2 linked regions of the Homo sapiens genome follow. The protein of the gene in region 2 purifies or fractionates together with the protein of the main gene of each other region. This does not show direct contact. Each region holds a gene or a part of one and is shown on either strand. Other genes may lie near its edges.

Region 1 (3,651 bases), on a different chromosome or scaffold from region 2:
CCTTAAATGTTATAACTTTTAGACCTAATGCATTTTTGTAAAGTAGCCAAGATAATGGAAGTAAGTAAATATAAATAACACAAGTAAAACAAAGGGATAGATTAGAATTCTGCATTAGAAAGTGAAAGGAGGGCCAGGTGCGGTGGGTAAGCCCAGCACTCGAGGCAGGTGGATCACTTGAGGTCAGGAGTTCAAGACTAGCACGGCTAACACGGTGAAACAACGTCTCTACTAAAAATACAAAAATTAGCCAGGTGTGGTGGTGGGTGCCTGTAATCCCAGCTACTCGGGAGGCTGAGGCAGGAGAATCGCTTGAACCCGGGAGGCAGAGGTTGCAGTGAGCCAAGATCAGGTCACTGGACTCCAGCCTGGGCAAGAGAGCAAGAGTCTGTCTCAAAAAATAAAAAATAAAAAAATAAGTTAATCTAAGTCCGAAAAATATAAGTATTTGTTAAAATTAAGATTGGCAGGATATTACTACACTCTGATCCTAGGAAAAAGGAAAAAGACTAATATGCCTTGACTAATTTTGTTTTGTCTTTTTTCTGATAGAAAAACCACGTGGGTTTAATCCTTCCAAAGATTCACAGAAAATAAATAACAACACATAAGTTGGTAAGGAAAAAAAAAAGAACTAAACACGTCTGACAACATGCTTTCTACTAGTCTCCAGCGTGGGTGTACCGGCATTATAAGGGAGCAAGACCAAGCAAGCACCTTTTCGGACAGACATCTTAGATTAACAAGCAGACACAGTATCTGTTTATACACTTCCAAGAGTATGTTTAAAGCCTGTATTTTTTAAATGGCTTACAAAAAAAGGTATACAAAAACATAATTTTGGCCACACACACACACAAAGAGTATTAGAATTAAATTATACTTTTATACTTTTCTTTCAGACACAAGCATTTATCAGGTATCTGGTTCATCTTCAAACTCAAAAAAAAAAATTTATAGAAACCCCTATGTAGTCTGTTAAGTCCTTCACTCAACCATTCTTTTTTATTTTTTGAGATGGAGTTTCGCTCTTGTTGCCCAGGCTGGAGTGCAATGGCACGATCTCGGCTCATCGCAACCTCTGCCTCCCACTCCCAGGTTCAAGCGATTCTCCTGCCTCAGCCTCCTGAGTAGCTGGGATTACAGGCATGTGCCACTACACCTGGCTAATTTTGTACTTTTACCAGAAACGGGGTTTCTCCATGTTGGTCACGCTGGTCTCAAACTCCTGACCTCAGGTGATCCACCCGCCTCAGCCTCCCAAAGTGCTGGGATTACAGGCGTGAGCCACTGCGCCCGGCCTCAACCATTCACTTATATATATATTAAATATTAGAAACTGAAGTATCAAGATATTCACCACTTCCTCTGACCACTGTATTAGAGTTTTAAACTGGGTTTCAGCTTTGAAACAAAAAATAACCACCCTTCTGAAATTTTTTACAAAATCATAATACATATTGAAACATATCCAGAAAAGTTAGAAAATATAGGTAAGCATAAAGAAGGAAAGATTCTTTTGTTTTTGTTTTTTTGAGACAGACTCTAGCTCTGTCACCCAGGCTGGAGTGCAGGGGCACAATCTCAGCTCACTGCAAACTCTGCCTCCCAGGTTCAAGCAATTCTCCTGCCTCAGCCTCCCAAGTAGCTGGGACTACAGGTGTGCGCCACCACACCCAGCTAATTTTTGTATTTTTAGTAGAGACGGGGTTTCTCCATGTTGGCCAGGCTGGACTCAAACTCCTGACCTCAAGTGATTCGCCCACCTCGGCCTCCCAAAGTGCTAGGATTACAGGCATGAGCCACCATGCCTGGCCAGCAGTAAAGTTTAACTGACTATAATCTTAGTTACCAGAAATCAAACAGCTAGGTGCCTAAAACTTATTCTAAAATGTGTATACAGTAAAAAAAATTATTGGTCCTAGTTCCTTTACAAATTAAAACATCTGCCCAAGCATGGTGGCTTGCACCTATCCCAGCACTTCCAGAGGCCAAGGCGGGCAGATCACTTGAGAGTAGGAGTTCAAGACCAGCCTGGCCAACATGGTAAAACCCCGTCTCTACTAAAAATAAAAAAAATTAGCTGGACATGGTGGCAGCCACCTGTAATCCCAGCTACCAGGGAGGCTGAGGCAGGAGAATCACTTGAACCTGGAAGGCAGAGGTTGCAGTAAGCAGAGATCATGCCACTGTACTCCAGCCTGGGCAACAGAGTGAGACTCTGCCTCCAAAAAAAAAAAAAAAAAAAAAAAAGCCAGGCATGGTAGCTCATGCCTGTAATCCCAGCACAGCGGGTGGATCACCAGAGGTCACGAGTTCAAGACCAGCCTAGCCAACATGGTGAAACCTTGTCTCTACTAAAAATATAAAAAATGAGCAGGGCATGGTAGCACCTGTAATCCCAGCTACTCGGGAGGCTGCACTCCAGCCTGGGCGACAGAACGAGACTCCAACTCAAAAAAAAAACAAGAACAAAAACTAAAATATCCTGAAAACGATTACTTAAGGAGTTAAAGTTGAAAATAATTCTATGCAAGCACAAGTTTAGGTAGTTCAAGTGTAAAAAATACATAACTGAAATCCTTCTTGCTTAACAGAAAATTAACTCCAGAGAAGGAAATATGTATGACAAAAAAACAGCCTCCCAAAAGTTGAAGGAAAAAAAAACACTCAACTAAACATTTGAAAATTATTTTTTCAAGTACTAGTCTGTCCAAAGCAAATAAGAAGGACTCAGCTGGGCAAAGTAGCATGCTCCTGTATTCCCAGCTACTCAGGAGGCTGAGGCAGGAGGATCGCCCTGTTCAGGCCAGGAGTTTGAGGCTTCAGTGAGCTATGATGGCACCACTGCACTCTGATGACAGAGTGAGAATATGTCTCAAAAAAAAAGGATTCCACTTACATAAAACTTAAAAATTTGTAGCTGTAGGCAAACTTAAAAAAATTATTTTAAAAAAATATTTTTAAATCATACTTTACCTTTGAGATTCCTAGAATGTATAACCAACTCTCTCCAGTACACTTACCCCTAAAGAAAAAAAAAAGGAAAAAGGAAAAAATAATAAACTGAATGTCTTATCACTGGAATGTACCTACTTTCGCTATTAAACTACCTACAAACATTACAAGTAGCTGGGCGCAGTGGTTCATGCCTGTAATCCCAGTACTTTGGGAGGCCGAGGCAGATGAACTACTTGAACTCAGGAGTTTGAGACCAGTGTGGGCACCTCTACAAAAACTACAAAACTTGTATTTAAAACTCGTCTGGTCAAACAAAAATAAAATACAAAATACAAGTTAGCCAAGCATGGTGTCATGTGCCTGTGGTCCCAGCTACTCAGAAGGCTGAGGCAGGGGAATCTCTTGAGACAGGGAGGTGGAGGCTGCAGTGAGCTGTGATAGCGTTACTGCACTCCAGCCTGCATGACAGACCAAGACCTTGTCTCGAAAAAAAAAAAAAAAAAAAAACAATGTTAGGGGTAATTATTCCAAATAAACTAATGAAACTGAAGCATACATTTACAGAGCAGCAACTTTTGTATTGTTAGTTGCACCAACAAAAGATCAGTACATATTGTCACAATTTCCAGAACGCCATGATCAGGTAGTGTTACCATGTAAGGTAATAAGAACTATGTGCCATCACTGGAG
Region 2 (3,651 bases):
AGACACCCAATCAGCATAGCACACTACAGCCCAGAACTCCCGGGCTCAAGGATCCTCCTGCTTCAGCCTCCCAAGTAGCTGGGACTACAGGCACTCGCCACCATGCCTGGCTCTATTTAGTTTTTAATTGGCATTTATTTATAAGGTTTTTTTTTTTCAGTGTTTTCAGTCGTCACTTGGAAGACTGCCAAGTAACAGTGAACAATGGCAGAGAAGAGACTGAGGTTCTGGGAATGCTGGCTGCAAGCCCCCTGCACTGACAGTCAGGCCTGCAATCACTTTCTCAGGAGTCATTGGCCTGAAGCCACAATCACTCCTTCCCCTTCCAAGGGGAAGCCTGAGACCCCAGCAGGATTCAGGAGGTCAGGGTAACTAATAGTGGTTTTGATTCCATTGCACAGAATCAGAGTGGGAAACGAGATTTCCCTGTTACAAAGATACCATCAACTCTACCCCTTGCAGACCACCTACTAAGGAGAACAGACCCATCTGCCAACTTGGGGGACACGAGTACAGCAGACAAGGGCCAGGATGAATGACACGGCCCTTGGCAGAGATGTAATATCTTGAACAAGTTCAGCAACCAGTGTGAAGTTGTACCCTTCTTAGGAAATACACACGGCAACTCTGAAAGGGGGCTGAAGAAGCTTCTGTGACATTCCCGCCCTTTAGAGGAGTGCTGGGCAGCAGGGGTGTGCTGGGAATCAGTTCTCTCAGAAAAAAGCCCTGGTTTAGAGCTTCTGCCAATTCCTGTGGTGTAAACAGTCTCATCATGGTTGATTTCAAGTTTCCAAGCAACTAGCTCACAAGTTCCTGTTTTTTGCTTTTTGGGGTTTTTTTTTTTTTTTTAGAGATTGAGTCTCGCTGTGTCACCCAGGCTGGAGTGCAGTGGCACGCAGCTGGCCTCAAGCAATCCTCCCACCTCAGCCTCCCAAAGGACTGGGATTACAGGTGTGAGCCATTGTGCCCGGCCAGTTCCTATTTAATAATCGGTTCTGGAAAGTCAATAAAAACTGGCTCCAGCATGCCACTGGGTCTGGATGTGACAGATCAATCAACCTTTCTTAATCTGTCCTCAGTAAGGCCTAAGTCTGGGATGATTTATTAGCTTCTCTCCATAAGTTGATTGGATGGTGAGCAAGAGGTCAATATTCTCATAATCAGATGATAGACAAGAAATAAATATGGCTTTAAGAACCCTGACTTTGGCGGGTGAGGTGGCTCACGCCTGTAATCCCAGCATTTGGGGAGGTCGAGGCGGGCAGATTGCCTGAGGTCAGGAGTTCAAGACCAGCCTGGGCAACACTGTGAAACCTCGTCTCTACTAAAAATACAAAAATTAGCTGGGCATGGTGGCACGTGCCTGTAATCTCTGCTACTCGGGAGGCTGAGGCAGGAGAATCACTTGGACCCGGGAGGCAGAGGTTGCAGTGAGCTGAGATTGTGCCACTGCACTCCAGTCTGGGAGACAGAGCGAGACTCCGTCTCAAAAAAAAAAAAACAAAAACAAAAAAAAAAAAAAACCCCTGACTTTTGAGATAAAGTCACACTGCGTGAGCTTCACATGGAATTTAGTAACCTGAGTAGAACTGTCCAAACATAGGAAGTTCCAGATGTACCACTGTGGATACACTATTCTCAGGGACCTAAAACCCCCAACTTCGACCCACAAGGGAGAACTAAGACACCTCTCTCTCGGCTCTGAAGCAGTCTTGAAGTGTTCAGGAGTAAACAAAAATCTCTCTTCCAAGTATTTATTAAGAAATAGAAACAAGCCAGAAAAATGCTTTAAAAACTGTATTTGTACAACAGGATAAAAACAGTTTTTCTTTCGGATGCCAGTTGCAAGTTTCCATGTAACGTATCTTAATCTACATTCCCAAAGTAATTGTGTCTCAGGTAACCTTTGCCCTGCCCAAAAGATGAACAAAAATAACCAGAAAGGTAAAAATCTGTCTTTGGAGTTGGGGGAATCACTGGCCACTTGCAAACTGCCACTTCACTGCCAACTTTTATCCAAGAAAACCGGTTTCTAAAAACCTGCAAAAGGGACATTTAAGAGGAAGCTGTTCCCTGAACGAAGACTGAGCAGGACAAGCCAAAAGCGGTGCCAGGGGACAATGCCAGATGGGGAAAGTAGGAGCCGGGTTGTGAGACGGAAACACACACGCCAAGAACAGCCAGGGAGCAAAGCGAGGAGTTCTGGCTTCTCGTAACTCATGAAGGATGAATGCTCATCGTTTAAATTTAGACGATAAAGCTGATGATGACGGGCCCGGGGGCGGCTATGGAAACCACCTCATTACGAGTCCACGAGAAAAGAGAGTATGGGAGGAAAGAGGGAGGCGGTGCACCCAGCGGGGGCCAGACACAAGAGACAGATGAGCTCGCCAGCAGTGCCTTCCCAGCAGCCCAGGGGACGCGTGTGCTTCCCCATAAATCCTTGGGACTGAGGACTTGGCTGCTGAGAAAAGAAACACATCAAGCATTGAACATAAAGAGGCAAGTGTGGTGTTTAGAGAGCACGAGCGCTCACTCTTATTCCAGGGAGGAAGAGGAATCCATGACGTACAGAGGCCCAGGAGCAGAAGGGCTCCAGGGAGGAGCCCTGGGAGAGAGGGTGGCAGCACGGAGAGAGCTGCTGGAGGCAGCAGAGCACCAAGGAAACATCCAGACATGCGCGGCCCGGCCCATCCGCTCCCGGAACAGCACCAAGACGAAATGGGAAACTACATGTCCCCAGGTTCGAGGCTGCAGGGGCAGACTCTGGTGTGAACAGGGGGGATGTGACCACCTAAGGAAAAGGTCACACCTGTCTTGGTATCAGGGGCTCAAGAGCTCTCAAAAATGTAAGGGGCCGACAGTCCCCTGCCCCAGGCCTGATCACAACTCCAGGGTCATGAGGTCAGAGTAAAGTGCAGAGGTTTTTAAACATAACCAAAATTTCAGGAGAGGCCAATTCTTACTTGAAAGAGCAACACCCTGGGGCGCTGCTTGCCATTACTTCCTCATCTTTAGCAACACATTTGCTTTTCAAGGTGTTCCTTGTGGAAACACACATACACATAGACACATGCCCCTCAGATGTCCCCTGCCCCCTGATTAGTAGAATGTGGGGTTTCCACAATGAGCAGAAACTGATCCAATTTTGGTTAAGTTTGAGAAGCCCTCTGAACTTGGGTGGTTGGCCCAATGTAAATACTTCCGCAGAGATGGAGGGCATTCAAAACAGGTTCTGAAAGGATCCAGGCCTATCTTGGACTTTGTTCTGGAAGCCAGGATTCAGCATGGCCACCTGTGCCAGGCTGCAAGGCCTGGTGTGAACGCGCAAAGTGGCAGCAAAAACAACAGACAGCCGCCTGCACTTGGCTGGAACCAACGTTGGCCATGAACAGATCTGGCGGGTGGGATGTTCTGCTGTCACACCAGGGGACCAGAGCCCCATACTGTAATACGTTTATTCAACCTTTACCATGGCTCCAAAACTGCCCCTCTCTGCCAGGGAGACGCCTTCGCTCAGGTTGGCCAGGTCGGTCAGGCTGGCACCATGGGCTCCATCGAGCACCTGGTCATACTGCTCCAGGCTCCTGTGGGCCTCCTGGCGGCTTTCATGCAGCTGGGAAAGTTTGCTCCTTGCCTGTGCAACAAAGA

Evidence for each region. Proteins that work in one complex are often made in the same cells at the same time.
Region 1: the proteins of EPS15L1 (region 2) and GAPVD1 purify together in Homo sapiens (affinity purification with mass spectrometry, with the first as the bait; one large-scale study listed by BioGRID). This does not show direct contact.

The regions. Positions count from the first base shown.
Region 1 is NC_000009.12:125,268,313-125,271,963, reverse strand, and holds part of GAPVD1 (GTPase-activating protein and VPS9 domain-containing protein 1), read right to left. Parts: intron 3,029-3,651; 5' UTR 2,980-3,028; intron 1-2,979. UniProt on the Homo sapiens protein: Acts both as a GTPase-activating protein (GAP) and a guanine nucleotide exchange factor (GEF), and participates in various processes such as endocytosis, insulin receptor internalization or LC2A4/GLUT4 trafficking.
Region 2 is NC_000019.10:16,398,849-16,402,499, forward strand, and holds part of EPS15L1 (epidermal growth factor receptor substrate 15-like 1), read right to left. Parts: intron 3,638-3,651; coding exon 3,473-3,637; coding exon of another isoform or gene 3,458-3,472; exon of another isoform or gene 1,741-3,457; intron 1-1,740.